Linked DNA regions of Homo sapiens: all the other regions are linked to region 1. The links come from fine-mapping of genetic effects on gene expression. A gene starts in region 1. Each other region holds a variant in brackets. All regions are shown on one strand. Distances are between the middles of the regions. Region 1 holds the start of HES6 (hes family bHLH transcription factor 6). Region 2 overlaps ERFE (erythroferrone). Region 3 overlaps ILKAP (ILK associated serine/threonine phosphatase).

The links. PIP is the estimated chance that this variant, and not a neighbour inherited with it, causes the effect.
Region 2: its variant is the best candidate, but not a certain one, in a credible set for the expression of HES6 in thyroid (GTEx, PIP 0.53).
Region 3: its variant is the best candidate, but not a certain one, in a credible set for the expression of HES6 in whole blood (INTERVAL, PIP 0.57).

The regions. Positions count from the first base shown.
Region 1 is chr2:238,234,368-238,244,129 of GRCh38, reverse strand. It overlaps HES6 (hes family bHLH transcription factor 6), which reads left to right and starts at 4,092. Exons shown (of 4, transcript NM_018645.6): 1 at 4,092-4,305; 2 at 4,383-4,469; 3 at 4,562-4,643; 4 at 4,879-5,863. The coding sequence starts at 4,225. The coding sequence ends at 5,303. It overlaps PER2 (period circadian regulator 2), which reads left to right. Exons shown (of 23, transcript NM_022817.3): 23 at 1-86. RefSeq lists enhancers at 2,181-2,686, 2,687-3,192, 5,093-5,661, 9,387-9,762 and silencers at 3,850-4,369, 9,317-9,406, 9,557-9,686.
Region 2 is chr2:238,161,873-238,171,634 of GRCh38, reverse strand. It overlaps ERFE (erythroferrone), which reads right to left. Exons shown (of 8, transcript NM_001291832.2): 3 at 8,797-8,899; 4 at 7,636-7,898; 5 at 7,452-7,560; 6 at 7,275-7,365; 7 at 5,951-6,029; 8 at 2,745-4,679. The coding sequence ends at 4,581. It overlaps ILKAP (ILK associated serine/threonine phosphatase), which reads left to right. Exons shown (of 12, transcript NM_030768.3): 11 at 611-692; 12 at 959-1,233. The coding sequence ends at 1,099. Among named protein-coding and RNA genes, the nearest start is that of ERFE, 7.8 kb to the right of the region's middle. RefSeq lists an enhancer at 7,977-8,477. The variant A/C (reference allele first, on the strand shown) is at 5,796.
Region 3 is chr2:238,181,984-238,191,745 of GRCh38, reverse strand. ILKAP (ILK associated serine/threonine phosphatase) reads left to right here. Exons shown (of 12, transcript NM_030768.3): 4 at 1,774-1,893; 5 at 3,489-3,615; 6 at 6,459-6,565; 7 at 7,633-7,726; 8 at 8,006-8,093; 9 at 9,560-9,681. Among named protein-coding and RNA genes, the nearest start is that of ILKAP, 17 kb to the left of the region's middle. The variant A/C (reference allele first, on the strand shown) is at 6,212.

The DNA.
Region 1 (9,762 bases):
GTGCAATAGATTTGTTTGACTGCTTGTGTCTTTTTATGACCTGTTTGCCTTTTAGAAAATTGGTAAATAAAGCAAGTATATTTTTATTTTTACTTGTATGTATTTTTCACATAGCACAAAGGAAAACCTGAATAGAGAGCAAAGATTATTTAAAAAAAATTTTTTTAAAGAACTCCAGGAATTCTGCATTAAAGAATCTTACATCCCAAAGGCCTCCTGGCGGTCAGCTCCCTTATAGCGTTTGCTTCTTGCTGGCTCCCTTTCTTCCTGTGCGTGTCACACACACACCCTCCTTCAGGCTGCAGGAGTGAACTCACGTAATGCAAACCTAATCGTGTCATGCCCCACAGTCTTTTCACTTTTAGTTGGAGGGGTGCAGCTGTCTGGCTCAGCCCCAGAGTGCCCCCAGCTCTGCCTCCACGCACCTCTGTCTTCCCTGCATCCCTGCCCTGGGTTACCTGGCCTTTCCAGGCTGGCTGCCTGTCTTCTGGTCATCGGGCTAGGTAGGGCTAAAGGTGGGGCGGTCAGGAGGCTCCACCAGGAAGGTCACATGTCTCCATTGCGAATGATATGGGCAGGGCGGCATAGTCCCCTGACCCCAGCCCTTCTTTCACAGTGATGAATGAAGCCTTGTGAGGCCAAAACTGTGGAAGCCCGAAGAGTTGCTCCCCATCCCTCCCACTCTTCAAACCATGACCCTGGGGGTGGGAGCAGAGAGCTGAATGGATCCTGAACCCAATGCCCAGCCTCTGAGAAGCTCCCTGAGCAGAAGGGAGGGGCTCTCCTCTGCCTGCTAGCCTGGCTGCCTAACGCCAAGTGCTGATGGGATAAAAGGCAAAGTCCTCCCTAGCGAGCACAGAGGCCTCTGCAAACTGCTCTAAATGGCCAGATATGGTTGTTTCACTGAACCTGAGTGCTTTTGGAAGACTCTTAATTGTATTTTTATTTACCATATAACCCCAAGGGATTTATTTCCAAACCAAACGGAGATTCTCTGAGTCTCCTGGGCAGATTGCCCACAAGGGGCCTGGACAGTCTACAGGCCGCAGCTGCCTTTGTTCCCCCAGGGATTTATGGCCTGCCACCCCCACTGCTAACTGGTATCCCCGCAGCAACCACCACCCTGCCCAGCCTCTGCTGGCCTCTGTTCCTGGCTCTAGGGGGATCAAAGGACTCAAATGCTCAGGAAGTCCATACTCAGGCAAACTTTGAAGGCAGGACTGGCCCAAGGGACAAATGGCAGGAAGTGTTGGCTAGGGGAGGCTGCTGTGAAGGAGGGAGGGAGGGCTTGGTGACCTCAAGATAGGCCAGGCTTCTGGGACAAAAAGGCCATGCCAGCTGGCCAGTGCACCGCTAAAGGGAATTGAAGCTGACCTTGCAGAGGGGACCTTGGGCAACTTCCAGTCCAACCAAGAAGGATTTTGCTGATGTACAGCCTTCTCTACTTAAGCTCTTTTCCCTGTAGGATCCTTGGTCACACCGAGGCATATCCCAGTGCTTAATTTCTCCCTCCCTCAACTCTAGACAGCATTCCTCAACCCTCCACCCACTCCACTGTCAGACAAGGCTTTTGAGGTCCCTAGTCCTCCCTTTAGCCTCCTCTCTCATAACTCCTATCACCTGTCCTTTTGTTTTTACAAGGTCAACTTTATATCATGTCCCATAACCATAAACAATCCTTCCTTGCCTTCTGTATAGATTAATTCTAAATGTTAAAACCCTATGAACACTGTTACATTGTTGTGACTGTGAAAATTGTCTCCTGAGCCAAGTAATGTGCTAAGATTACATTTCTTGGGAAGCTTTTTGTTTTTCCTAGAGTTCCTAGTTGCTTTTCTTTCTTTTTTTTTGCTTGCACCATTTGCCTTTATCATGTCCTCCTTGCCCCTCAAATCCAGTTCCCCATCCAATCAAGTGTTCAGTCAGGCTTTACCCAAAGTCCTCTTTTGGGGCCCTGATCATCCTGTTGCAATATAAATTGCCTAACATAAAGCAGATGTTTTAGGATGAGAGCATCCTAAAACATCTACTTGGCCTTGTTCGTTTGGATAATGAGAGGAGTGTAAATCAGTTTGCAAACTTGGGAGTACAGGAAATATCAGTGAGTTTATTTTTCCCTATCACAGTTTCTCGAAGTAGTGGAAATGTCATTGTAGCCACTTGGGGGAGTGGAGGTTCTCCTTCCCTGGGGTGATGTCTAAGTGGTGAAGGAGAGTAAAGTCACAGGCTAATAATCCACTTCCTTGGGATCCACCACTCCAGCCCCACCCTGCCAGCCCCACTACTGGGCAGGTGGGGAGTGTGTGAAGTAAAGCGGTAGTTTCACACCCAGGTGAGTGATGCTGGGCTGGGGGAAGTCTCAGGACCCTGCTCATAGAGCAACCAAGAGCCAGAGCAGGGACAGTTGGGAGCCAGCGGGAGGGGGTCCCAGGTAATTACAGAGGTCAGTGAGGTGACTTTGGGAGCTTTCAAACCTCTCACCAAACTCACCCAGCAGGAAGCCTGCAGGGGTCCCTCTGGTGGAGAGGCGCAAGTAAAGGGGCCATGGGAGGCCTGTCAGACCTCTCTAGGGGCAGTGGGGCGGTCGGTCTGCAGCCTAGTCCTGCCGCTCCGCTCAGCTGCTGCGGTCCCGTGATGTTCCCCTCCCACGCGGCCTTCCAGCCCATCCTGCCAGGGCCACCCCTCACCTTCCCTACCTACCAGCGCTTCTGTGAGGCCAGGCTCTGCTGGGGGTGCGGGGAGGTGGACAGGGGGTCCTAGGTCAGACTGTGCCCTTGTCCAGGGACGCTTATAGCCTGGAGGGGCTCAGAACAGACCCTGACGATCCCAGCCCGGGTGAGTAGTGGGGACTGAGGAAGGCAGGTGCTGTGCGGGGCAGGCTGGTAGTCGGCCGGCTGGGGTCCGAGAAGGCGTCTCCCGTTCCGGCTCCTCCACACAGCGTCTGGACTGACGCCGGGGCAGGAGCCGGGCAGGGGTCCCCAGGACGCTGCCCGAGGGCGCGGCCCCACCGCCCACGCACCCCGCCCGCGGCCAAGAGGAACCCAGCAGATGGGCGGCCCGCCGCGATGGGGGAGTCGCGGGCGTCTGGCCGGGACAAGCGCCCGCCGCCTGCCCGCCGGACAAAGGGTGCGAGACAAAGGCGCGGCCAACACCTGTCGCTCTTGGCGCGGCCGCCGCTTTTCTCGCTTTTCTCCGCCGAAGCGGCCGCAGCTGCCAACTGTCACGGGCATCAAGTTACAGGACCAGACGGCAGCTTCGGCGGGCCTGGGAGGCGGGGCGCGGAGGACGAGGAGGGGAGGAGGGAGGCGGGCGGGGGGCAGTGGAAGGGAGGGAGGGGGCCCCGGGGGCCAAAGGGGACTAGAGGGAGATGGGGGAGCTCAGAGGGGGGCGGGGCTGGTGACCCGCAGAGCCCAGGGGGAGAGCGGCGCGGGCGGGAGCACCCGGGACCCCGCCCCACTAGGACTCCAGTGCTGGCGGAGGGCGGCGTCGGGGGTCCGGCCCGGCGTCTGGACGAGTCCGGAAGAAACTCAGGGGCCGCCCCGCCACCGCTGCCCAATGGACCCTGCCTCCCCGGGGCTTGGCAGCCACCCCAGCCGGGACCTGAAACCCCTCTAGGTCCAGAGACCGCGGACTTGACTGTGGCTCTGCACACCAGGGACGCATCTCCTGGGGCCAGTGGCCCCAGCGCTCAACTCTGGAGGCGCCATCGGCGAAGGAGGGAAATGAATGAATTAATGGGTGAATGAATGAGTGGACGGACGGACGGACGGACGGGTGGACGCCTGCTCGCACGCGCGGCAGATCAGTGGTCCTAGAGCAGCAGACGGAGAGAAACAAGCGCGGGCAGGGCCGCAGCTACCCGGGGTCGCCGCCCCGGTGCCGCCCCCGCGGGGGTCTAGGGAAGGCCGGGCTGGGGGCCCCGCCTAGCTCAGCCAGCTGCCCGACCGCCAGAGCCGCTGGGCCGGACAAAGCGCGCTGCCCCGATTGGCTGCAGCGCGCCTCGCGGTCGGCCGCCCCGGGCCCGCGCGGCCAATCGGCGCATTGAGATGCAAATAAGCGGCTATAAAAGGGGCGGGACCGCGGCGGGCCGGAAGCCGCGAGGAGCGCGGACGGCTGGGCTGCTGCTGGGCGGCCGCGGGGCAGCGGAGGGCGCCGGCACTCCGGTCCCCGCCGCTCCCCGTCCCCGCTGCTCCTAGCCCCTGCCGCGTCCCCGGCGGAGCGGGCATGGCGCCACCCGCGGCGCCTGGCCGGGACCGTGTGGGCCGTGAGGATGAGGACGGCTGGGAGACGCGAGGGGACCGCAAGGTGCGGGCCGGGGCCATGGGCGAGCAAGCGGGCGGGAGGCCGTGCGGGGCTGGGATTCAGTGCCCCGCTCCCCGCAGGCCCGGAAGCCCCTGGTGGAGAAGAAGCGGCGCGCGCGGATCAACGAGAGCCTGCAGGAGCTGCGGCTGCTGCTGGCGGGCGCCGAGGTGCGGCGGCCGGGCAGGCGCCGTGGGGCTGCGGGGCGGGCGGGCGGGTCCGGGAGCGCGCTGCCGGCTCACCGCCCTTCCCGCCCGCGCAGGTGCAGGCCAAGCTGGAGAACGCCGAAGTGCTGGAGCTGACGGTGCGGCGGGTCCAGGGTGTGCTGCGGGGCCGGGCGCGCGGTGAGTGGCGGCGGGGCGGGCGGGGGCGCCGGCCGCGGGCGCCTGTAACCCCTGCCAGACGGAGGACTTCCCTCCCGGCGCCCCTGTCCTGTCGGCGGCGAGGGCTCCCACCGGAGCAGGGTGCGCCCCCGCGTCTCCTGGGTGAGCCGCGTCCCCGCGGGCCGGGTGGGCTGGGCCACGCAGTCGCCGCTCACCGCGCGGGACGCGGCTCTCTCCCTCCCACCCTCGGGCCCAGAGCGCGAGCAGCTGCAGGCGGAAGCGAGCGAGCGCTTCGCTGCCGGCTACATCCAGTGCATGCACGAGGTGCACACGTTCGTGTCCACGTGCCAGGCCATCGACGCTACCGTCGCTGCCGAGCTCCTGAACCATCTGCTCGAGTCCATGCCGCTGCGTGAGGGCAGCAGCTTCCAGGATCTGCTGGGGGACGCCCTGGCGGGGCCACCTAGAGCCCCTGGACGGAGTGGCTGGCCTGCGGGGGGCGCTCCGGGATCCCCAATACCCAGCCCCCCGGGTCCTGGGGACGACCTGTGCTCCGACCTGGAGGAGGCCCCTGAGGCTGAACTGAGTCAGGCTCCTGCTGAGGGGCCCGACTTGGTGCCCGCAGCCCTGGGCAGCCTGACCACAGCCCAAATTGCCCGGAGTGTCTGGAGGCCTTGGTGACCAATGCCAGCCAGAGTCCTGCGGGGGTGGGCCCGGCCCTCCCTGGATCTCCTCCCTCCTCCCAGGGGTTCAGATGTGGTGGGGTAGGGCCCTGGAAGTCTCCCAGGTCTTCCCTCCCTCCTCTGATGGATGGCTTGCAGGGCAGCCCCTGGTAACCAGCCCAGTCAGGCCCCAGCCCCGTTTCTTAAGAAACTTTTAGGGACCCTGCAGCTCTGGAGTGGGTGGAGGGAGGGAGCTACGGGCAGGAGGAAGAATTTTGTAGAGCTGCCAGCGCTCTCCCAGGTTCACCCACCCAGGCTTCACCAGCCCTGTGCGGGCTCTGGGGGCAGAGGTGGCAGAAATGGTGCTGGGCACTAGTGTTCCAGGCAGCCCTGGGCTAAACAAAAGCTTGAACTTGCCACTTCAGCGGGGAGATGAGAGGCAGGTGCACTGAGCTGCACTGCCCAGAGCTGTGATGCTCTGTACATCTTGTTTGTAGCACACTTGAGTTTGTGTATTCCATTGACATCAAATGTGACAATTTTACTAAATAAAGAATTTTGGAGTTAGTTACCCTTGAAGTATTGTTGAGTGATGTGTCATTACTGTGTCAAGATATGTAAATGCTAAACTAAGCACATTTCCCCTGCATCTGAGGCTGGTGAATGTCCTTTAAAACCTCACCCTTTCTCAGCAGAGTGAGCAGTGTGATGGTGGTGGGGATGCACTCCGTGGCTGTCTCTGCAGCAGGCAGTGCTTCTGCCCCCCATGCTAGGCAGGTCCTCAGACCCAGCCTGTTCTTGGGCATTGTGTGTCCTGGAGAAGGAGTTTGTTTGCATGAGGCTTGTCTCCAGGGTAACTCAGCAATAGGGAGATGACCTGTCTCTGTGCCATTTTCTTGTTCATGAGCTTCAGGAATAATAAAATAATGCCTAATTGCTACCTATTTGGTTTGAAAGTATCTTTTAAAGACCTGTTTTAGGACCCACGAGCATGACATAGACATGAGTCTACTTGTGTGAGGTTGTTGCTTATCTTGACTGAAGAAGGAACTTCCCCACTGCTGCCATTGACTTCAGGGTCAAGGAGACCCACCCAGTTTGTGGCCTGAAATGAAAGCGCCAAGGCCCCAGGGGGCTTGAGCGTTAGGTCAAACTGGGTCCAGGAGGTCAGAACCCTCAGGGATGGAGGGTGGCAGGATGGGCAGCTGGGGTGCGGGAGCCTGCCCTCTTGGGCTCGGCCAGACCTGCAGATAGCACGTGGTCAGCCGGCTGAAGTCACCGCCACAGTTAGCCTAGCCCCCTCCTCCTGCTCCAGGACCCCAAAGCAGCAGCTTCTCACTGTGGGTTGGCAGTCCCCAGGCTAGGGCCAAGGTGTGACAACTTAGGATTGACGTCGGGGTCTCCTCTCTGGACATGTGCTTTTGCCTTAAGAACACCTTTCCCAGCAGCCCCTTTACAAAAGCCCCCAAGCAGGTCCTGGCCACCAGGGGTGTTTCAAAGTTTGAGGTTCACTCTGGCTCACCTCAATTCAATCATAGAAGCCATTGGGCTATAACCAGATGCAGCTTTATCATCTGGAGCCGAGCTATTGGGGCAGTGGGGGAGCCAGTGCCACAGAAGAAGTCTTGAGCAATGGAAATATCATTCCTGGGATTATTTTAATGTCCTCAGACAGGCTGATGTAGGATGTACCCACCAGGACACGGATGGATAACGGGCCATCCTGAAAGCCCTGGTTTCCAGTAGCACCCAGAGGCCATGCCAATGAGCTCTCATGCCATTCAGGGAGCATCAGCCATGGACTGCTTCAAAGGAACAACTTTCACCTCTCAAGTCCACTCATCACACCTTCCCAGATGCCCTAGGAGGGGGTCAAGGGGAAGCCCAGGAGGCAAGGTGCAGGAGGCTGACCTGGAGTAAAAGCGTTGCTAGGACCAGAGTCAGAAGCCACTAACCCAGAACTCTGGCCCTGTGCCCCTCCAGCCCTAAAGTCAGCTTCACAGTAATCCTCAAGTGCAGCTTCTTTTGGAAATGTAACTGGCTCCCACACCAGTGACCACTGTTGGCCTCCTGGGGCTGAGAGCTGCTCTTGCCTGCGGTGCAGCCTGGGGCCACCAGCTTCCCAGCCAGCTGGTTGTTTCACACCAGCTCCTCTCCCAGCACCCCCAGGCTCCCCACAAGCCCTTCTCTGAGGGCTGTCTCCTTCCCACCCGGATCCCTTCTCTAAGGGCTGTCTCCTTCCCACCCGGATCCCTTCTCTGAGGGCTGTCTCCTTCCCACCCGGATCCCTGACCCACTGTATTACTTTTCTATGGCTGCCAAAACCAACGACCACACTCTTGGTGGCTTCAAACACACGATTATTGTCTTGCAGTTCCACGGGTTAGAAGTCTGTCAGGATTCACTGGGCTAAGATCAAGGTGTTGGCAGGCAGGGCTGTGTGCCTTCTCCTGCCTCTTCATTCAGGGGCCACCCACATTCCTTGGAGGATGGTCCCTTCCTCCATCCTCAGAGTTCCTCGGAAGCATTGCGTCTCTCTGACCCTTCTTCCTTGGTCACGTCTCCTCCTTACTTCTACTTTTAAAGATCCTTGTGATGACACCAGCCCCCTGGAGAATCCAGGATAATCTCCCTGTATGAAGGTCTTTAGCTTAATTCTTAATCACATTTGCAAACTCCCTTTTGCCATGTAAAGTAGCATATTCGCAGGTTCTGGGAACTAGGATGTGGTCATGAAGGACATTCTCTGTGACACCTGCCTGCACCCTGGCCCAGGCGTTCTGCCTTCCATCATGAAGCAGTGTGGCGCCCGCTTCCGACATGGGCATGGGCCCCCATCCCTGCTCACCTGCTCAGGGACTCTGCTCTCCACTGCACCATTAGCTTCTCCTCCCTTCTGGATCATTCTCATTAACCTACAAACGGGCTGTAATATGAATACCTTTACTCGGAAGAACCTCCCTGGATGTGACATACTGTTAGCCTCTGTCTCAATGCTCTAAAGCAAAATTCCTTGAAAGCGTCATCTACACTTACTGCCTCCACTTCCACGCATCCCATTCCTCTTCATTCCTTTCCAATCAAGCTATTGTCCACCCTTCCACTGGAACTGCACAGTCAAAATCTCTAGTAACGAGCATGTTTCCCAACCCAGTGGGCATGTCCGCATGTCAGCTTCACTTCTCGTGGGTTATGACTCATCCATCTGGAGGCTCCTTCTCCAGTCTCAAGGGCACCACACCAGCCTTCTTTCTACCTCATCGGCCATCCTCAGTCCCCTGTACTCAATGCTCCTCCCTGCCGACCTCCAACTGGACGTGTTCTTCCCAAGGCTCTGTCCTCAGCCTTCCCTGCCGCCCTCCAACTGGACGTGTTCTTCCCAAGGCTCTGTCCTCAGCCTTCCCTGCCGCCCCCACACCCAGTGACACCATCTGGCCCGTTTTGCCAATCCCATGCCCTTGATTCAAAGCCCCTCTCCAGGCGGCTGGCTCCTCTGTATCCTCCTGTCCACTCAGTGACTGCACTTAGATGTCAGATGGGCTCACACCACCACCAAAACAACAGATCCTCAGGCATTACCACTTCTTGGTACCCCATGGATTGAGCAAAAAAATCTAGATGTCACCCTCAAGTTCACCCTCTTCCTGCCATCCCACGTCCTATCAGTCAAGCCCATGAGCACTACTTCTTCTTCTTTTTTATTTTTATTTATTAATTTATTATTATTATTATTATTTTGAGACGGAGTCTCACTCTGTCGCCCAGGCTGGAGTGCAGTGGGGGAGATCTAGGCTCACTGCAACCTCCGCCTCCTGGGTTCAAGCAATTCTCCTGCCTCAGCCTCCCAAGTAGCTGGGACTACAGGCGCCAGCCACCACGCTCGGCTAATTTTTTCTATTTTTAGTAGAGACGGGGTTTCACCGTGTTAGCCAGGATGGTCTCGATCGCCTGACCTCGTGATCTGCCCGCCTAGGCCTCCCAAAGTGCTGGGATTACAGGCGTGAGCCACCAAGCCCGGCGGAGCTCTACTTCTAAGCCCTGCCTCCACGTGTCGTCTTCTTTGCCACCGACCGAGTCCAAGGCAGCCTCGTTTCTAACCTGGGCCTCCGCAGCAGGCCTCTGACTCCCCTCCCACTCCAGTCCTGACCGTGACCTTCAAGACTCTACCCGGTTCAGCACCGCCGCCCCCCGGGGCTCCTCCCTTCCAGCCCTCCCTACGCTCTGCTCAGGCCTCTGCAAGTGACCCGAGAGCCAGGACCCGGACGGTCTCGATCAGCCAGTCGCCCAGCCCTTGAGCCCTTCCGGGACTGCCCGGAGCCGGCGCTGGGGAATACCGAGTCCCTTGGAGCCGGGTTCGGGGGGCGCCGTGAGCTGGGAGGCGCTCGGAGGAGCCGAGGCCTTGACCACGCCCCCTCCAGCCCCGCCCCGCCAGAGGCGAGCCGCGGGGCCTCCTGGGAGATGTAGTTCCGACCCCTTTA
Region 2 (9,762 bases), 72 kb after region 1:
TGGAGTTTGCCTAAGAAAGTACAGCACCTAATGTTTGAGGTAATTAATAATTCTGTTAATTGGCGAAGAGAAGGATAGTCTCAGTTTTGATGTATAACATCCTATCCACAAATACTTGTAAGTAGTTTAAACCTTTGTCTCAGAAATTAAGTGGGTTTAAACAAATCTTAGCCTGGCCAGGCGCTGTGGCTCATGCCTGTAATCCCAGCACTTTGGGAGGCTGAGGCAGGTGAATCACCTGAGGTTAGGAGTTTGAGACCAGCCTGGCCAACGTGGTGAAACCCTGTCTCTACTAAAAATACAAAAAATTACCCGGGCGTGGTGCCGGGCACCTGTAATCCCAGCTACTCAGGAGGCTGAGGCAGGAGAACAGCTTAAACTGGGAAGGTGGAGGTTGCAGTGAGCCAAGATTGCGTCATTGCACTCCAGCCTGGGCAACAAGAGTGAAACTCCATCTCAAAAAAAAAAAAAAAAGAAAAAAGAAAAAAAAAACCTTAGCCTTTGAATAGTTGGACAAATATTTATTTTATCTCCATCTCCAGGCCCTTTTTTTATTTTTTATTTTTTGGTTGGGCCTAAAACCCGTTTATATTTCTCCCTGGTGTTGTAGGTTCATTTTGTTGGCCTGTGATGGGCTCTTCAAGGTCTTTACCCCAGAAGAAGCCGTGAACTTCATCTTGTCCTGTCTCGAGGTGAGAAATCTCACACGGGGGTGGTGGTTGTCCCAATTGTGTCTTAGTTTTCAGAGAAGTAGAAGTTCTGAGACCCCATTTCCTCCCATTGTGGGACAGCCCTTGTGCCCTTTTTCAGTGTGAACTCTGCCTACTGACTCACTGGTCAGTTTGTCCTGCCAGCCCTGATGGAGACCAGAGCAGCTCTTCTTCCTGGCAGTCATGTCTCAGGAAAGTGACAGGGTGCGGGGTCACTCCATTCACTCATTCCCTTTCTCATCTGGTAGGATGAAAAGATCCAGACCCGGGAAGGGAAGTCCGCAGCCGACGCCCGCTACGAAGCAGCCTGCAACAGGCTGGCCAACAAGGCGGTGCAGCGGGGCTCGGCCGACAACGTCACTGTGATGGTGGTGCGGATAGGGCACTGAGGGGTGGCGCGCGGCCAGGAGCACGCATGGTATTGACTTAAAAGGTTCATTTTGTGTGTGTGCACATTGTGTGTTTTGTGTACTCCTGTGGGACTCCCATGGTTGTAAATAAAGGTTTCTCTTTTTTTTTCCTAGTCTTTTGAGTTATTATACTGTGAGCACCTCTTGACCCTTCAGAGATTGTGTTTGCTTTTGAATATGCTGTCTTTCCTTGTTAAAACCATTATAGGCATCTTGGACTGGCTCGTAGTGGCCTGCAGGCTGCTGGTTGTGTGATGTTTTGTAGTTCACGGGCATTTTGCTGTGCTTTCACTGTCATGATGACCCTGGTTGGGGAAGTGGCATGTTGCAATGAAGAGACCCAGGGGATGACTGGTTAGTCAAGGCTAGGCCCAGACCAGGGCTTTGGGAACCCTCTAGCTCTTTTCAGTTTTCCCTATGGAAATAGTGTTGCAAAATGTTACATAGCATGAGCTCAGGCTTAGCCAGGAAATAGACTCATAGACAAGGTTACTCATGCATCAGACCTGCCAGAAACAGTACAGAATTAGCCATTCTCATTCCATTGGTGAGAGCTGCAGTCTGGTGGAAGGAGTCTGTGGAGGACTCGGTTCAGTGGCTTCCATCTGGACTCCCTGGGTGTAGGTGTGCACCTTCCTGTTGGAGCAGGCAGCCGGCTGCTCAGCATGGCCCGGAAATTCTGCTTCCCACGTGAGGTAGGTGTGGGGAGTTGGCCCTGTGCTGGAATGAGGTTAATCTTTGCAATAACACCTCAAAGGGGGACACTTCTGTTAAAGATGTTAAAAGCATGAAAAGAGTGCATGAAGAATAATAAGCTCAGAAGAATAAGCTTTAAAATACTTTTCAAGCACTTGTTTATATAGAAAACGTCATCATTATGACTGTAAGTAGTTTTTAGTAAAGCAGCTCTTGGATCCTTTTGTGTAAATGTTTGGCTCAGGATGATGTAAGATTCTAAAAATTTGCGTTTTCAGAATCTGTTTTGTAATGTTCCCTGGCCCCCACCCAACACACACACATGGTTTTATCACCCAGTTGATTGAGTGGAATTGGTATCCATGCTGCGAGGACCTCAGTGGTAAAGGCTTCATGTAAACCTTAGATGCCTCCTGGGGGTCTGTTGTGTAAAAGCCACAAGTAAGAACTGAACGAAGTGTTGGTGCTGCCCCTTCCTTCCCCAGGGAGTTTTAAGAGCCAAGTACCCATTTCAGTTTGAGGACTGGGACATTGTACAGTGTGGCCTCATTGAAGAAAAGAGCCCTGGCACCCCAGAATCAGGAAATAGAACCATTCATTTGGTAACTATCTTCCTATAGCAAACCAGGTGTTTGCACACTGATGTCTGTGACTCATACATCCCTATGTCCCACTGTTCCCGAGAGGCTTGACCCTAGTTTCCCAGGAAGGTTCACTCCCAGCCTTCAAGGGAGTCCCTCCCACGTAGAGGCTGGAGGCCATCTCCACTTCACCTTCCAGGTTCCTCCTTACTGTGCTTAGTTTAGTGAACCTGGGCTAAAGGATTGATTCCGGATCTTAAGGTCTGCCTTTTGTTTTGTAACTGTTGTGTCACATAGTTCTTAAGTAAGTACTTGAACCACCCCACGAAGTCAGTTATATAAATATATTCCACTTGGCAGTATTTATTAGACAATAAATACTTTAATAAATTGCTGCATAACACACTGAGAAAAATGAAAGAGATGTGGATATGTGGCTTTTACAAGAGTGAAAGATAAGTTCTCTAGAATATCTGTGCCCAGTGGATACAAAGTGAAATCTAGATAAGGGCGTGGCCACATCACCCCCTTATCAAAACACACGGATGCAGTACCCAGGCCAGCCCAGTACTTCTAGGTAGGGTGGGTGTGAGTCCTACTGAGAATCGCACCAGGCCTTTCCCAGGGCAGAGTGTTTGGTTTTTGTGTGTTACTGCACTTGGGGATGGAGATGTTTGATTCGATGTTGGGGTTTGGAAGCTGGGCTCCTGGGGATCATTCGGGCCTGGTGGCAGCCACCTCATCCGGAGGCTAGTTAGTTAGAAGGTGAAGGTGACTGGCCATTGCTCCCTTCTCTCCCAGGCCTGAGCGCCCTTGCCAGACCAGCTTGGCTCCCAGGAGGTCCTGAGGCACCAGGTTCTTCGTAGCCTGTTGTGTGGGGAGGCAGTGGGTTAACTCTTCCTCAGCAGGTAGGAGGCCCTGGAGGTCGCTGCCGAGGGCCTTGTCCTCTTCACTACCTACTCTGGGACAGTCCTGTACTTTGGGGAAAATGTGGGAGGCTACATTTGAGGAGGCTGCGGGCTCACAGCCTGTGTGTCCTCATGAGAGCTGCCGTCCCCATCCCCAGGCCCCATCACTGCCACAGGAGCACAGCAGGCTTGGGACCAGCCCTCCCAAGACCACCCTTTCTCGGGACCATCTCTCGTCCACCACCTGTCCAATGTCAGCGCCGCATGGCCACCCAAGTGGGAAAGATGCTTGGGAGGCTCATCCCAGAGCCGCTGGACCCAGCCAGGCCCTGGCACCCCTGGTGGAAGACTCTGCTTCAGCTATTCGGATGATGGGTCAGCAGGCCCGGCTGTCTCCAATCTGTAAAGACGTTCTAGATCTTTCCTCTGGTGGGTGGCTCCTACCAGTGAGTCAGCACCTCAGAGGGGAGGGGAAAAGGGATCTCATCCACCTCTGGAGAGGGTGGAAGGGGCCTTGGCTGTGAAGATTTGCAGAGGAGGGGAAGAGTGGAGCTCCCATTTGGAAAGGCCTTCTGAGGTGAATTTGTGAGTTAATCTTGCACACATTAGAACTAGAAGCTGGGCCCAGACTTACTGTCCCCCAAAGGCCCTTGTCCAGTGCCCCTCTGGCCCAGGCTAGGCAGTGCTCAGCTCCACTGGCAGGTAGAACACGGTTAGGGGAGGGGCAGGGAAGACCAAGGAGCCCAGATGGAGACCAGGGGAGTGGTGAGTGACCCCGTCCCTTCTAAGCAGTAAGAACACACAGCGTACGTCCCTGTGGCAGCCCCCTCAGCCCTGCGTCAGCTGACCCTCTCCCAGGTAGGGGCCCTGGCTGGTGCACTTTGCACTCCATGAGAACATGAAGAGAGGTGGAAAAGGTGGGGCTGGGCACAGGAAAGACGCAGAGGCCATCTGGGCAGGTGCTGAGCAGGCCAGGAAAGAGTCGGCCTGCAGCTGGAGACTAGCAGGTGCCCCCAGGCACGCCGACTCTTTCTTTCCTGGATAAGAGCCCAAGATGGTGTCCTGAATCAACCCTGGCTCCGGGACCACCAGCGTGCGTGTCACGTCCGTAGGCCTGCCTGCAGTGGCTCTGTGGGCTGAACTGCAGTGGCCAGTGTGGGCAGAGTTCCGGGTGGGCCTCCTCCTCCATGTGGCCACTGCTACTCTGACACTGTCCACACATTGTCTAGATCTGTGCTCCATTTGCCCCTGAGAGGAAGGGCCTGTGGTGGCCGCTCACACGCCCAGGAGGACAGCACTGAAGTGGGAGCCACTGCGCACTGTGAGGGAGCAGCCGCTGGCGTTGTCCAAGAACACGGAGGTCCACTGCCCCATCTGCAAGGAGGGTGCCTTTGAGGCACTGGGCCACCCCAACAGCCTGCAGAGGTGACCCAAGGGCCAGCCAGCCACACTCCCTCCTGCCCACTCAGCCCCGCTTTTGGGAAGGGCTCAGGCCCAGAGAAGAATGTGGCCGCCAAGGTCACAGAGCAAGGGCCCGCACGGGTTGGGCCCCACCCAGCACCTCTTCTGCTTTCCCTGCAGCGCCCTACAGTTCGCGTGTGTGGGAGTGGGCCCCTGCTCAAGGCCAGAGTGGGATTCAAGAGTCCAACAGGTTTCTCAGCTGCAGGGCTTCTCAGAGCCTGCAAGGGCTCCAAGTCAGGTGGGAGGGTGGCCCTTCCCCACAGGCAGTCATTTGGCAGAGCCTTCCGTGAAACCAGCACTCTAGCCTGGCTGCTCCAAACGTGGTCATGCACCAGCAGCGTGGTCATGCACCAGCAGTGTCACATTCCCTGGGAACTCCCAGAAATGCAGAATCTGGGATCCACCCAGACCTGCCTCAGGATCTGCATCTTAAGATCCAGGTGGGGCAGAGACCATCTGAGTTCACCAAGCATGCTGTGTGGCACCCAGAAGGGACCTCTAAATGCCTTTCAGCAAGCACAGACTCTGGGCCAGACAGCCTGGCCTCCATTTCTGGCTCTGCTGTGTGAACTTGGGCTAACTCGGGGAGTAGCTCTACCTTCTCCAAAGCTCTGGGAGAATTCAATAGCAGCTGTTATTCCACACACCTGCACTCAATTGTTTTCTTTGTTAGTAAATTCCACCTTTATGTCCATTTCTCTACCACTTGCCAAAATTCCCACAGTGCCAGAGATGGTCACTTAGGGTTTTGGGTAGGAAAATAACGTATCTGGCTTCCCATAGTCACAGGGGACTCAGGGCGTCAGCCTGGGCAGAGTGCTGGCCTCCATTCCCTCCCTGCACCAGTCCCTTCAGCGGGCTTGTGGTGGCCAGGAGTACTGGGCCTCAGGATGAGGTGCTCAGGGAGTCTGAATATTGGGAATGCAGAGCGGAGCAGCTGCTCAAGCGGGCAGGTGCCCTCGGGGAAGGGCTGTGTTTGGAGGAAGGAGATCAGGACTTGAAGCCTGGCTGCGCCCAGACCAAAGTGAG[A/C]ACTTGGCATGTCCTGGACCCTCTCCCAGGCCTGGAGTCTGAGGGTGCTGCACCCGACCCAGTGATCCTGAGCATCTAACAGCACCCTTCTGCACCCAGCCACCCGTGGCCATGCCCAGGCGGTGCCCCTCGATGCCCAAGCCTGCCGCACTCACCTGCAGGTACAGGACGCCATTCACAGAGATGGTGAAGAGCTCACTGCTGCTCTCCAGGCCCATGATGGCCTCCAGGGAGCTGTACCCAAAACAGAGGGAGGGTCAGCCTGCCCCATGAGACCCCACCAACTTCACCTACGACACACAATCCTGCCAGCAGCCAACACATGCCCAGCAAAGTGCCTGACCCTGGCCAGGTCTTCCAGTGGAGGTGGTGTCTGAACCGAGTCCCCAAGAGGAGGAAGGACACAGGGCCAGAGGCATGCTTGCTGTATTGGGAAAGGCAAGGCGAGGGCCCAGCAAGAGGCAGCAAAGCCCTGGCTCTGATGGGAAACAGGACACTGGCTGATGCAGCCGGAAGTGGGGATGTGGTGGCAGGTGATGCTAAGTTAGTTCAGGCCAACACACTCTGGGGGTTCAAAGGCAGACTAAGAAGTTTTGGACTTGATCCATTCATTCAAGTCTGCTCCAGCTATCCTACCCGCAGGGTATCTCCGCTGTACCTGGGCTCCCTTCTGGGTGTGGGGAGACAGGGAGCTCACAGTCACTGCACTCGTGGGCCAGATGGTGCAGGAGCAAGGGATGCGATCATGGGGAAGAAAGTTCCCGGGTGAGGAGTGGGAGGGCGACTGAGGAGGGGGCCTCCAGAAAGCTGTCTGGAGAGGCCTCTTGAAGTAACACTGGTGCTTCGAGCCCCAAGATGAAAGTCCCTGAGGTGGGAAGGAGTTGGGAGGCTAGGAGGAGCCCGGCCTCCTAGGACCTGGGGAGGAGGTGAAGGTCTGGGCAGGGAGTGGCCTGGAAAGGTTTTTTTTTGTTGTTGTTGTTTGTTTTTTTGAGACGGAGTCTCGCTCTGTTGCCCAGGCTGGAGTGCAGTGGCGCTATCTCTGCTCACTGCAAGCTCCGCCTCCCGGGTTCACGCCATTCTCCTGCCTCAGCCTCCCAAGTAGCTGGGATTACAGGCACCCACCACGCCCGGGTAATTTTTTGTATTTTTAGTAGAGACGGGGTTTCACCATGTTAGCCAGGATGGTCTCGATCTCCTGACCTCGTGATCCGCCCGCCTCGGCCTCCCAAAGTGCTGCGATTACAGGCGTGAGCCACCGCGCCCAGCTGGAAAGGTCATTTTTAACAGCTCCCAGTTGCTGTGAAGGGAAGGCCTGATAGGGGCAGAAGTAGACCGGGAGACCTGGAAGAAGGTGTGGGGTCACCTAGGCCACGGTGGGGTGTGAACGGGCGGAAGCCCCGTCCAGTGCCTGTTTAACCACCTCCAGCTTGTGGAGGCCGAGCGAATGCGGGTGTGGGGTCCGGGCCGGGGTACACTCACGCGTTGCGCTGGCACCGGGACTGGATGCAGATGAGCAGGCGCAGGTGGTCCCGGGGGCGCGGCGGCCCCCTCCTCGGCGGCTCCCCGAGCGCTGCGGGGGAGGGTGGGACGTGGTCAAGCGGGCGGGCGGCGGGGTGGGCGACAGAGCGGGCGATCCTCCCACGCCCCGGGCCTCACCCACGTGCAGCGTGGCGGCGAGAGCGTAGAAGCCAGCCACGGGCGCCCTGTACTGGCCGCTGGTCAAGTTCAGGCCCGGGCCGCGGCGGAAGGCACCCTCGGCGTCGGGCTGCGAGGGGCACGGATGGTCACCCCGGCTCCCGCCCGGCCGGACTCACCCGCCCTCCCGCGCGCCGGCACTCACCAGGTAGTAGACGCCAAGCTCGTGCAGCGCGCGCCGCTCCACCAACGCGTCCCGGCGCAGGCGGCAGAGGAAAGCGGCCTCCACGCGCGGCGCCCGCGGCCCCGGGGCCAGGGGCGCGGCCAGCAGTGCCAGCACGTCCCCCACCACGTCGTCGTCGTCCTCCCCGGCGGTGGCCGAGACCGGGGCGAGGCTCGCAGCGACCGGCCCGGCGGGGCCACACGTACAGGGTTCGGGCTCCGCGCGCTCCCGCTGCCGCACCGCACCTGGCACAGAGCGAGCGGTGGCCGCGCGCCAGGGACCCCTCACCCGCCCGCCGCGTGGGTCCAGCCCTGAACGACAGGTGCTAGCGAGACCAGGGGCCTGCCGGGCGCAGGGGTGGGGCGAGGGCGACGTCCCCTCGGCCTGAAGGGCCTCGGAGTCTTTGCGTCCTGACCCTGCAGCGGCTCCCGTTTCCCTCAAGATTTGGGAAGCTCGGGCAGAAGTGCCCCAGCGCCCTTGGCCTCCAGCCTCACCTCTACCCCACCCACATTTTCCAAAGACGCTGGGGGTAAAATAAGCGATTGCAGCTTTACTGGAAGTACAAGGAGGTTCTTCAGCGCAGAAGGTGCTATATTTAAACGAACAGGACATTGAACTAAAAGGAAAAAACGGCTCAATTCTAATGACTAATGTGAGCCGCCGCTCTGCAGGAGGCCTCAGTGTGGACTCCGCGGCTCCACTCAGCCCTGCCTCCTCCAGGGCAGGCTGCCCCAGCCCTGGCCAGTGGTGACTGTGGGTGCCAGGCTGAGCTCCACCTGGTGCTGCCCCATACACTAGCCTCTGCCTTTCGCTGGGCTCTCCTGACTTCCAGGCAGGGCATAGGCGCTGGTCCCTGAGCACCCGCCATACTGAGTGGCCAGGTCCACCTTCCTCTGTGAAGCCTTCTCCTGGCCATGGTTCCCAACCCCCAGCCATCCCCAGCCCTGACCCTTGGCAGACATGGGCCAAGATGGGGCAGAGACTGGACCTGGCCAGCTCTACTGTCCTTGAGTCCAGCCCAGAGCAGGTGCCTCCTTGGGTGCCCGCCGAAGTGTTGAGGTTGGCCCTGTCAGCTCCTCGGGACACCCTCCCAGGCCCTGCTCACAGCGGGGTGTGTGTGTCCCAGCCGGTGCACACCCCTACCTTTCAGCAGCAGCTGGAACTCCTTCAGCAGCGCCTCGGGTGGGATGATGGGGCCTGGGGGGCCCTGGGGACCGGGAGGCCCAGGGGGCCCTGGCAAGCCGAACTGAAAGGGAACCTTGGCAGTGAGGACATGTGAGGAGCAGGCTGGGAGCCACAGCATCCCCTGTGCAAGCTCTTGCCACTAAGAGGCAGGCAACAGAGCTCCCCAGTGGGCTCCAACCTCCAGCCAAGGATCTACCTCAGTGAAAGCTTCTCCTGGAGTGAGTACAAGGACTGTGCTGGAGGTGGGGGCCCTCGGGGCGGGGCTTTGGCAGGGAAGGACTCTGCTCTGAGTGGGGAGGCAGAGGGCTGAAGCCCGCTCCTGCGGCCAGGCCTCGTGGAGGGAAGAAGACTCTAGGCTGCTTTTGGGGACTTGCATCTCAGGGTCTGCACTGGGCCCGAGTCCACCATCAGCAGGTCCCCACTAGGCTGGGTTGGGACCCGAACCAGAAGCCAGTGAGCCCCCTGTGGGGAGAAGCTTAGGGCAGGGCCAGGAGGCTGGGCAGAGGTAGAAGGCCAGGCCACGAGGACAGCGCGGCCTGTGCACCTGCCTCATGCACTCCGAGCTGGCCTTCCATCGTGTGTTCAGATCCCAGGCAGGTGATACTGGCCCCCAGGGGACAGAGAAGCCCACACCCCGTATTTTCCATTTTGGGGGCTCCAAGCAGGAGGCAGCACCAGGACCAAGCACCAAGTTTCTGCCCAGGCCAAGACCTAAGGCTGAGTGAGGGTGAGAGGGACCCTGTGCCCCTAGTCCCTGGGAGCCAGGCACTCCTGCAGGCCCCTCCAGTGTGGACAAGGTTCTCACCACAGCCTGGGCTAGCCCAGCCTCCCTGGCCTGGATGCAGAGGGAGGAGAAAAGAGGGAGAGCCTGGCATTTTAGGGGTGTGGGGAAATGGTTGGGACCAGGCCCCTAACTCGGGGCTC
Region 3 (9,762 bases), 52 kb after region 1:
ATTAGAGACCGGGTTTCGCCATGTTGGTCAGGCTTGTCTTGACCTTCTGACCTTAGATGATCTGCCCATCTCAGCCTCCCAAAGTGCTGGGATGACAGGTGTGAACCACCACACCTGGCCATCTGTTTTGGAATTTTAAAGGAAGAAAGTTTCACATCCATATGGGGAAAACTGGAACCCATACAGTAAGCCACAGGACACTAATGGGGACCTTTGGGAGAGATACTGTTGGAAACATCTGTGTTGCCTTATGCAGGGTGCATATGTGTATTATGTTATACTGTTGCAGAAATAGGGCCTTGTGCAACTAATTTACGCTTCTTGAGGGCAGGAACATTTTCATTACTTTTTCCTCAGCACTAAGAAATGTCTGACACAGGCGGTTCAAGACCAACCTACCCAACATGGTGAAACTCCGTCTCTACTAAAAATACAAAAATACAAAAATTAGCTGGGTGTGATGGTGCACTCCTGTAGGCTGAGACAGGAGAATTGCTTGAACCCTGGAGGTGGAGGTTGTAGTGAGCTGACGTTGCGTCACTGCACTCGAGCCTGGGCGACAGAGTAGACTCCGTCTCAAAAAAAAAAAAAAGACACCTTGTGTTTACCAAAAAAATTAAAAAATTAGCCGGGTGTAGTGGTTCCTGCTTTCAGTCCCAGCTGCTCAGGAGGCTGAGATGGAAGGATCACTTGAACACAGGAGTTGGAGGCTGCAGTAAACTGTGATCATGCCACTGCATTCTAGTCTGTGTGACAGAATGAGACCCTGTGTCAAAAACAAAAAGAAGAAGAAATGTCTGGCAAAGAGTAGGTTGAGTAAGTAAATAAGTACTTGCATCCTTTTTTTTTTTTTTTTTTTTTTTTTTTTAAAGAGAAACGTCTTACTACTTTGCCCAGGCAGGTCTCAAATGCCTGGGCTGAAGTGATCCTTCTGCCTCAGTCTCCAGAAGTAGCTGTGACTGCAGGCATGTGCCACTGCATCTGGCTGTTGCATACTTTTATACCTAAATGCAGAGAACATTTCAAGTCATTTATTAGGACAGCAGCTGCCCTTATTGGAGATTGATGTGTTAGGCACTGTGACAAATGCTCTTCCTACTTGTCCTGACCCATTTTCAAACATCCCTCTGAGATGACAGTATTCTTACCATGTTACGCACGGGTGAAGACAGCTGAGACTGAAAGATTAAGTTGCACACCTCTTTGAAACTTGACTTTTCTCATTTCAAACACATACACTGCAGATTCCCTTAGCTTTGAGTACAGATTCATCCTTTTGCTAGTGGGAACAGCTGTGGCAGCCTTATTTTGCCTTTGAAAGGATGTATTACAGTTCTTAAAGGCTGCCATTTACCTCATTTTGAGCCTTTTCGAGTACTTGTTACTTTTTGGAACGTGATTAGGATATGTTAGTTTGCTTACAGATTTTGTAAGTGTTTGTTTAACACTAAGAGCCTGTGGATATAAAAACATGTATATGCTACAGGCCAAAAAAAACCATGTATTTTTACCACTGGGAAAAGTCTTTTACAAACCCCTTCAGCAGGGTCAGTTTGACTCAGGGCCTGGATCTTAACTTTATGTTCTCTCACTGTGGGACCCCCCTCCCCCTCCCCGCCAACCATGAAGACACAACTCCTGGGTCTGCCTGTGTCTGCCAGTCCTTGCTTCAAATGACCTTGTCTTTGAGTGCTAGGATGAAGCCCAGTCTACTAGTGACTTTTTCCAACAGTCTACAGCTGTGTTTCTGTCTGGCTTTTACTTTATTTCCAGGTTCTCTTGCCACATCAATATCCCAGATGGTAAAGACTGAAGGGAAAGGAGCAAAGAGAAAAACCTCCGAGGAAGAGAAGAATGGCAGTGAAGAGCTTGTGGAAAAGAAAGTTTGTAAAGGTTTTCAGACAATTTGAAAACAAATGTATTAGACTTCATATTTTAAAACAACCCAGAGCAAAACCAGTTTCAGCTTTCTAATAATACTTTCTTTTTATGTCTGTATTTAAGAAATAAGTAGGGTTCCCTTTTTGCAAATGAATTTCCAAGTTTCTCTGTGCTTTCTCCTACTTTTCATGTACATCTATCTCTGATCCTACCTTTGATCAGATAGGAAACCTACATTTGTTCCTCAAGAGTTAAAAAATACAGGTGGTTTTTTTCTTAGCCTTCTGCAGTGAATGGTTAGTTTTTTGACCACCTAGTCTCTCTCTGACTTCCAATCTTTGTTTGCAGTTTGTCAATTAGTGCTTTGAATTACGTGATTTAGCTTAGTAGGCAGCTTCCCTAAGCCTGGAAAAAGCCGTTGAAATTTGTAGTCAGTTGTGTAACTTGTCAAAGTTAGTGAGGAAGAAAACGAAAAGTATTAACTAAAGAGAATACTTCAGTTGTGGTACTAAAGTATTCTTGAGCTGTGGGATTTTCTTTTTTTCTCTTTTTTTTGAGACAGAGTCTCGCTCTGTCGCCCAGGCTGGAGTGGCACCATCTCGGCTCACTGCAAGCTCCGCCTCCCGGGTTCATACCATTCTACCTCAGCCTCCCGAGTAGCTGGGACTACAGACGCCTGCCACCACGCCTGGCTAGTTTTTTGTATTTTTAGTAGAGACGGGGTTTCACCATGTTAGCCAGGATGCTCTCGATCTCCTGACTTTGTGATCTGCCCGCCTCGGCTTCCCAGAGTGCTGGGATTACAGGCGTGAGCAACCGTGCCTGGCCCGAGCTGTGGGATTTTCATTGACTGCATTGTCCTTTGTCACAGATTACCTCAGTGAAAGCTGTATGATGCAGGCAGAGGTATGTGAAAAAACCCACTTGTAGCTTTGCTGGGAAGATGTCATCTTCAACTTAGCTTGTCACTTCCCAGAAGACAGCTCTTCACAGTGTTCATTTTATTATTTGTCTGGCATTAGGTATCAGAAAATAAGCTTAAATGAGTCTAACCATTAAATGTAAATAGATCTCTGCCTGCATTGGAATCTTTTATCCTTTTCTTCCTCAGTTGAAGTAAAAGCAGCTGATCTTACTGTTTGTTCAAATTCTTCACCAGCCTTGAGCATGGAAATACATATTTTCAGGGCATCTTAAGGGCTTTTGAGATAAACTCTCCTGACTTGCATTTGTCCTTATTCAATTATCACAAGACTAATTTGCACATGATCCTTTTGCCTGATTTGAATCTCACTTCTCTGGGATGGCAGCACATCCCTTGCCCTGATGCTTTGACTTACACCCTAGACAGAGTTGTTTTGTGCTCACTGACTCCTCTTTTGTGTCCCTGTGCAACCTCTTAGAGCTCACCCTGTCCAACAGTGCTCCGATTTGAGTTATAGACTTGCAGCTGGGGGAGATGCCTTAAGGGGTATTGCTTATTTGTTTGCGCCATTAGGATATTGCTGAGTCAGACAGTCATAGTTCCCTCTCATTTGCTCTGGGACTAGGGTTTCCAGAGGGTTGGGCACAGTTTTGTATTGGCTCTTTTGTTCTCTTTTCCTTAGCCTCTTCGGTGATCTTTGGTCTGAAGGGCTATGTGGCTGAGCGGAAGGGTGAGAGGGAGGAGATGCAGGATGCCCACGTCATCCTGAACGACATCACCGAGGAGTGTAGGCCCCCATCGTCCCTCATGTGAGTCTCATGTGGTAGGAAGCCCGGCTGGCATTAACATCTCCTGGGTTCTGACTGGCATTTTGGACTGGCTAGTTTGTATTTACTAGAAAATCTAACACATCACTTGATTGTACATCAGTGATTCTCAGCTGGGGTTGATTTTGCTCCCCGCCCAGGGGACATTTGTCAGTGTTTGGGTACATTTTTGTCACAACTGCGGGAGGGAGTTGTTACTGGCATCTGGTGGGTAGAGACTAGGGATGCTGGTAAACATCTTAGAAGCACAGGGCAGCCCCACAACAAAGAATTGTTCAGCCTGGAATGTCAGTAGTGTCGCGGTTGAGCAGCCCTGCTGAGCGGGAGATGACGCTTCATAGCATGGCTCTGCAGCGTGTGTTACTCCTTACCAGCAACTGAGCGGCTTCTGGCAGAGAATATTTTTAATCCATGACCTAGAAGATAAGAGTTGGAAGCCACTAATTAAAGTATGAATGGTGATCAAGCAGAGCTAGTACAGATAATCAGGGCCCAGGAAGAACAAAAGTCAAAATGATGTCAAGGAAAAGACAGACAATGAAAAATTAGCTGCAACTATACAAACTAAAATGAAGCCTTCTGGATAAGCTCTTGGGCCTGGAAAAAAACCAGAAGGTAGGACATTAAGTTGGCTGTAAACATACATTATAGTACATATTACATAGGTTACATAATTCAGAATTACATAATAAATACATTACGTACCTTTACTGACACCAGTTGGTCATTAACATACAGTGTGCTGGAGCCGTTTGGGCTGATGGCGTTTGTCCAGTAGATGAGGTCTGCTCATGGAGATGAGGTGATGGCTGCTGCAGAGCAGCTGATCATATGTAGAGGGGACGAGATACACACCCATTGAGACAGGGTCTTGCTGTCTTGCTCAGGCTGGAGTACAGTGGCACAATCATAGTTCATTGCAGGCTTGACCTCCTAGGCTCAAGCAGTCCTCCCACCTCAGCGTCCTGAGTAGCTGGGACCATAGGCATGTGCCACCACAGCCGGCTAATTTTTTGAATTTTTTGTAGAGACAGTGTCTCCTTAAGTTGCTCAGGCTTGTCTCAGAGTCCTGGGCTCAAGCCATCTTCCCACCTTGGTCTCCCAAAGTGCCAGGATTACTCGCATGAGCCACCATACCCAGCCTGGGATTTGCATTAAAACCAGGAAAGGGACCTCTGGAGCCCAAGAAGGCAGATCCATTGAGTGTAAATTTAATTGGGAACACTACATCATGCCTTGCAAATAACAGGCAGTAAGAACAGCTCTGAGTTATAAACCAGATGAGGTTTTTTTTCTCATGGCTCAGGATGTCCTAAATTGAAAAGGAATTCCAAAAAACTTGAAAGAAAAGCAGCTCTCTAGAATAAATGTCATTTCTCGTGGGCATTTTTGTTTTTTTTTTTTCCTTGAAATAGTTTATTTGATGTCTTTTATTCCATATATGTGGGTTTTCTGGCAAAATTTGAAAGGGGAATGGGAATAAGAGTAGTAAGATAGGTTTTAAAAATGAGATATTTAAAATTTATTTGAGTAACAATTCTGTAATATCCTCCCTGCTCTTATGCAGTCATGTGCTGAATAACAACATCAAGTCAGTGATGGACTGCATATATGACGGTGCTCCCATAAGATTACAAATTTTGTAGAGATGGGGGTCTCGCTATGTTGCCCAGGCTGGTCTTGAACTCCTGGCCTCAAGTGATCCTCCTGCCTTGGCCACCTCCCGAAGTGTTGGGATTAACAGGCGTGAGCTGTCGTGTTCAGCCATAATACCATGTTTACTGTACCTTTTCTATGTTTAGGTATGTTTAAATACACAAATACTACCAGTGTGTTACAACTGCCTATGGTATTTAGTGCAGTAACATGCTGTGCAGTTTAGCCTAGGAGCAATAGGCTCTACCATGTATGTAGCTTAGGTGTGTAGTAAGCTGCGCCGTGTTAGTTTCTGTAAATATGTTCTATGATGTTCACACAACAAAGTCACCTAACAATGCATTTCTGTTAAGTGATGCATGACTGTATTTTTTACTGTTTTCGATAAATAACTTGATCTGTTTGTTAATGTTTAAAACCAAATCCGATTTAAATAGGAACGGAGTTCTGAATTTTAGTTTTGTTGTCAGTGAAAAATCAGAATTAACAGATCTTGATCTTTGAAGCAAATGTGAGTTTTAAACATTTAATGTAAAATACTGGGAAAAGTGTTACATCTCTTTTAGAATATTAGACCTTTAGCAGGTCTTGCAGTCTTCACCAGAAACACTCCCACACCTACACACACACAGTGTTTTTGTTTTTTTTTTTTTTAGACAGAATCTCGCTCTGTCACCCCGGCTGAAGTGCAGTGGTGCGATCTCAGTTCACTGCAAGCTCCGCCTCCTGGGTTCACGCCATTCTCCTGCCTCAGCCTCCCGAGTAGCTGGGACTGTAGGTGCCTGCCACCACGCCCGGCTAATTTTTTTGTATTGTTAGTAGAGATGGGGTTTCACCGTGTTAGCCAGGATGGTCTTGATCTCCTGATCTCGTGATCCGCCTGCCTCGGCCTCCCAAAGCGCTGGGATTACAGGCATGAGCC[A/C]CCACACCTGGCCCACACACAAGTATTTTTTTTTTAAAAAAAGATAAAATGCTGTGAAAGTTACTTAAATATTTGTCTCAGTTAAAGCCTTTTTTTTCCCATTTGTAACAGTGTGACTGGTGTCTTAACCAGTGTGACTTCCTCTGACTTATTAATGTTCACTCTTTGAGACGAAATTTAAAAGCTTTAATGGAAAAGTGTGGTTTTTGCTGTGAGAATTTGATTAACTCTCAATTCGTTCTTTCAGTACTCGGGTTTCATATTTTGCTGTTTTTGATGGACATGGAGGAATTCGAGCCTCAAAATTTGCTGCACAGAATTTGCATCAAAACTTAATCAGAAAATTTCCTAAAGGTGAGACTGAGAACTAAATCAGTTGATACTCAAATTGGTTATTGCTGTTTGGTTGGCTGTGTGAAGCAGTCAGATGTGTTATTTTGGCTTTAGCAGAGAATCATTGATGAGTCTTAAAAGAGTGGTGCTGAGGAGTGGATGCCAAGGCTTCCAGGAGTAGCGGCCATGCAGGTGTGACTTAGAATGGCACTTCTCATGATTCTAAGTGATAGGCACCTTTTGTCAATCGTCTTTGGGTTCAGTTAGTGTCTTGCCTTTACTGGAAAACTAGTAAACCAACTTCAAATAGCACTGTGTTATATGTGAGGAAAGAAACAGAGATTGTTCTGGCTGGGCACGGTGGCTCACACAGCACTTTGGGAGGCCAAGGCCAGAAGATCACTCAAGCCCAGGAGTTTGAGACCAGCCTGGCAACATAGGGAGACTCTATCTCTATAAAAAAAAAAAACAAACCTAACTGGACATGGTGGTATGTGCCTGTGGTCCCAGCTGCTCAGGAGGCTGTGGTGGGAGGATTTTCTGAGCCCCAGGAGGTTCAGGCTGCAGTGAACCACAGTTGCACCATTGCACTGCAGCCTGGGTGACAGAGTGAGACCCAGTCTCAGAAAAAAAAATTTAAAAAAGGAAAGAAATAGGGATTGTTCTTAATCATGCTTGAAAATCAATTGATGTGCAGAAATTACAAAAACAAAATGGCCAGCCCTGGTGACCCACGCCTGTAATCCCAGCATTTGGGAGGCCGAGGCAGGTGGATCACGAGGTCAGGAGTTCGAGACCAGCCTGGCCAATGTGGTGAAACCCTGTCTCTACTAAAAACACAAAAATTAGCCTGGCATGGTTGCGCGCGCCTGTATTCCCAGCTACTCAGGAGGCTAAGGCAGAAGAATCTCTTGAACCTGGGAGGCGGAGGTTGCAGTGAGCTGAGATCGCGCCACTGCATTCCAGCCTGGTGACAGAACGAGACTCCGTCTCAAAAAAATAAAACAAAAAACAAACCAAAATGACAGTGGGAGGAGGATAATCTTCCCTCCTTGAGAGATTGTTTTCTTTTGGCCCTTCTGTAATAGGAGATGTAATCAGTGTAGAGAAAACCGTGAAGAGATGCCTTTTGGACACTTTCAAGCATACTGATGAAGAGTTCCTTAAACAAGCTTCCAGCCAGTAAGTATAACTTGATGATGAAGTTTGAGTGGACTGTGTGTGGTGTTTTCCTAAATGCATTTCAGTCTTCTGATGTGGTTTAACACTATTGCTCACTGTCTGAAAAGTGCGTAGCACTCAGCTTTTATAACCGTTAGCTAAATCTAAAACAGAAAAAAAGCAAGTATCAAGGAAATGGTTCATTTTGAAATATAAGATACTTCCCATTGAGCTCTGGAAATTAGTCTCAAAGTGCTGGGCTATTGGTGGTGACTGTGTTTCTGATGTGTTTCCCCCCAGGAAGCCTGCCTGGAAAGATGGGTCCACTGCCACGTGTGTTCTGGCTGTAGACAACATTCTTTATATTGCCAACCTCGGAGATAGTCGGGTATGTGGCTCTGGAGCCACCCACTTAGATGACAATACGTTTTATGGGGAAAAGACTTTAGCACGTACTTGTTGAATAAGATTAAAGTGATGGTGTCTGGTTGAAACCTTTCTTCTGGGGTTGCTGCAGAGTGTTCTGCTGCAGTTTAACTTCTGGGTAAGGGAACAGCAACTCAGCTAGAGGCTGTTTGTTCTCTGGGGAACTTACGCCCTATGATAGACTTGTGCTTTAAAACCCAGATCCCGTCTTTTTTGTTTCTTTTTTCCTCCCGTGGTTTGTGTGTGTGATGCTGTGGATCAGAATGTAATCAGTATGCAAGTAGCCTAAATCTTCTTTTATTTCCTTTCTCTGACCTTAGACAGTAATGAATGAAAAGCTTTAACCCCTGCCTATCAAAGTTACTGTGATTTCAGAGTAACTTGAGAGCTGTAGCTAGAAAATACCAGATGAGGTGCCATTCATCACCCGAGCCCGGTCCCTGGCTGAGGGAGAAAGCCCAGGGTGTTGTTCCCCCTGGTGACAGTCGTGGGGATGCTGTAAAGCCTAGAGGGTGCTGCTGCGGAAAGCTGGATGCAGACCCTGCCTCCTCTGCATCAGGACCATGTGTTCCGTTCCGTTGCCGCTTTTTCACCCGGCCTCCTTGCTCCCTAGGCAGTCACAGGAATCAAGTGACTGTCCACACTTAAGCAGCATCTTTAGACCCCTCCCCACGATGCTTCTGGGGGGATGATTCATCAAATACTAAGTGCTAGGGGTATGGCAGAGACTATAACAGATGACAGCCCCTGCCTGGTGGAGTTTACATTCTGGTGGCCCTTTAGTAGACTGGCCTTAGCCCACATGTGTTTAGACCACATGACTTCAGAAATAGCAAGAGGAAAATTGGCAAAAAAACAAAGACAGGAGTCAGACCCAAATTTGAATCCTGGCTCTGCTCTGTGACTTTATTGAGTTACTTATTCTTCGTGCCTCAGTGTCTTCCTGTAAAACAGACACAATGAACCTGGCAGGGGCGAGAACACCTGGAGGCACTGGTGTGGACGGCCTACCTGGCACTCGGCCAGCATGCACAACGCTTGCCCTCCTCTTTGCCTTCCATAGGCTCATGGACATGTCTCTGGCCTTCTAGACTCCAGGCCAAAAGGGACCTTGATACTTGTTGAGTGCTTCCTTTCATGTCACAAATGTGACAACAGCCAGAGTGAGCACTTGTCTGTAGTTATTCAGCAGAGTTTGTACCAGAGTTGATATCAAAACCAGGGGCGACTCTCTCCCTAACTGTTGTGTCTTTGACACTTCTTTGCTGCTTGATTCTCTGAACTTACGTTTATCAGCAGGAGGCTGAATGTGAAACTCCATTGTTAACTGTTTTCTTCAAACTCCATTGTTAACTGTTTTTTTCAACTGGTACCTTTAGATGCTGCGCCCACTGAATTTCATGACTATTACAATCTCCATCTTCCCAGGCAATCTTGTGTCGTTATAATGAGGAGAGTCAAAAACATGCAGCCTTAAGCCTCAGCAAAGAGCATAATCCAACTCAGTATGAAGAGCGGATGAGGATACAGAAGGCTGGAGGAAACGTCAGGTAACCAAGGGACTGAGAGGAGCTCATGGGAAGGAGGGCTGTTAGCTGTAGAAGGGTCCCGAGACCTTCAAGGAGTAGAAC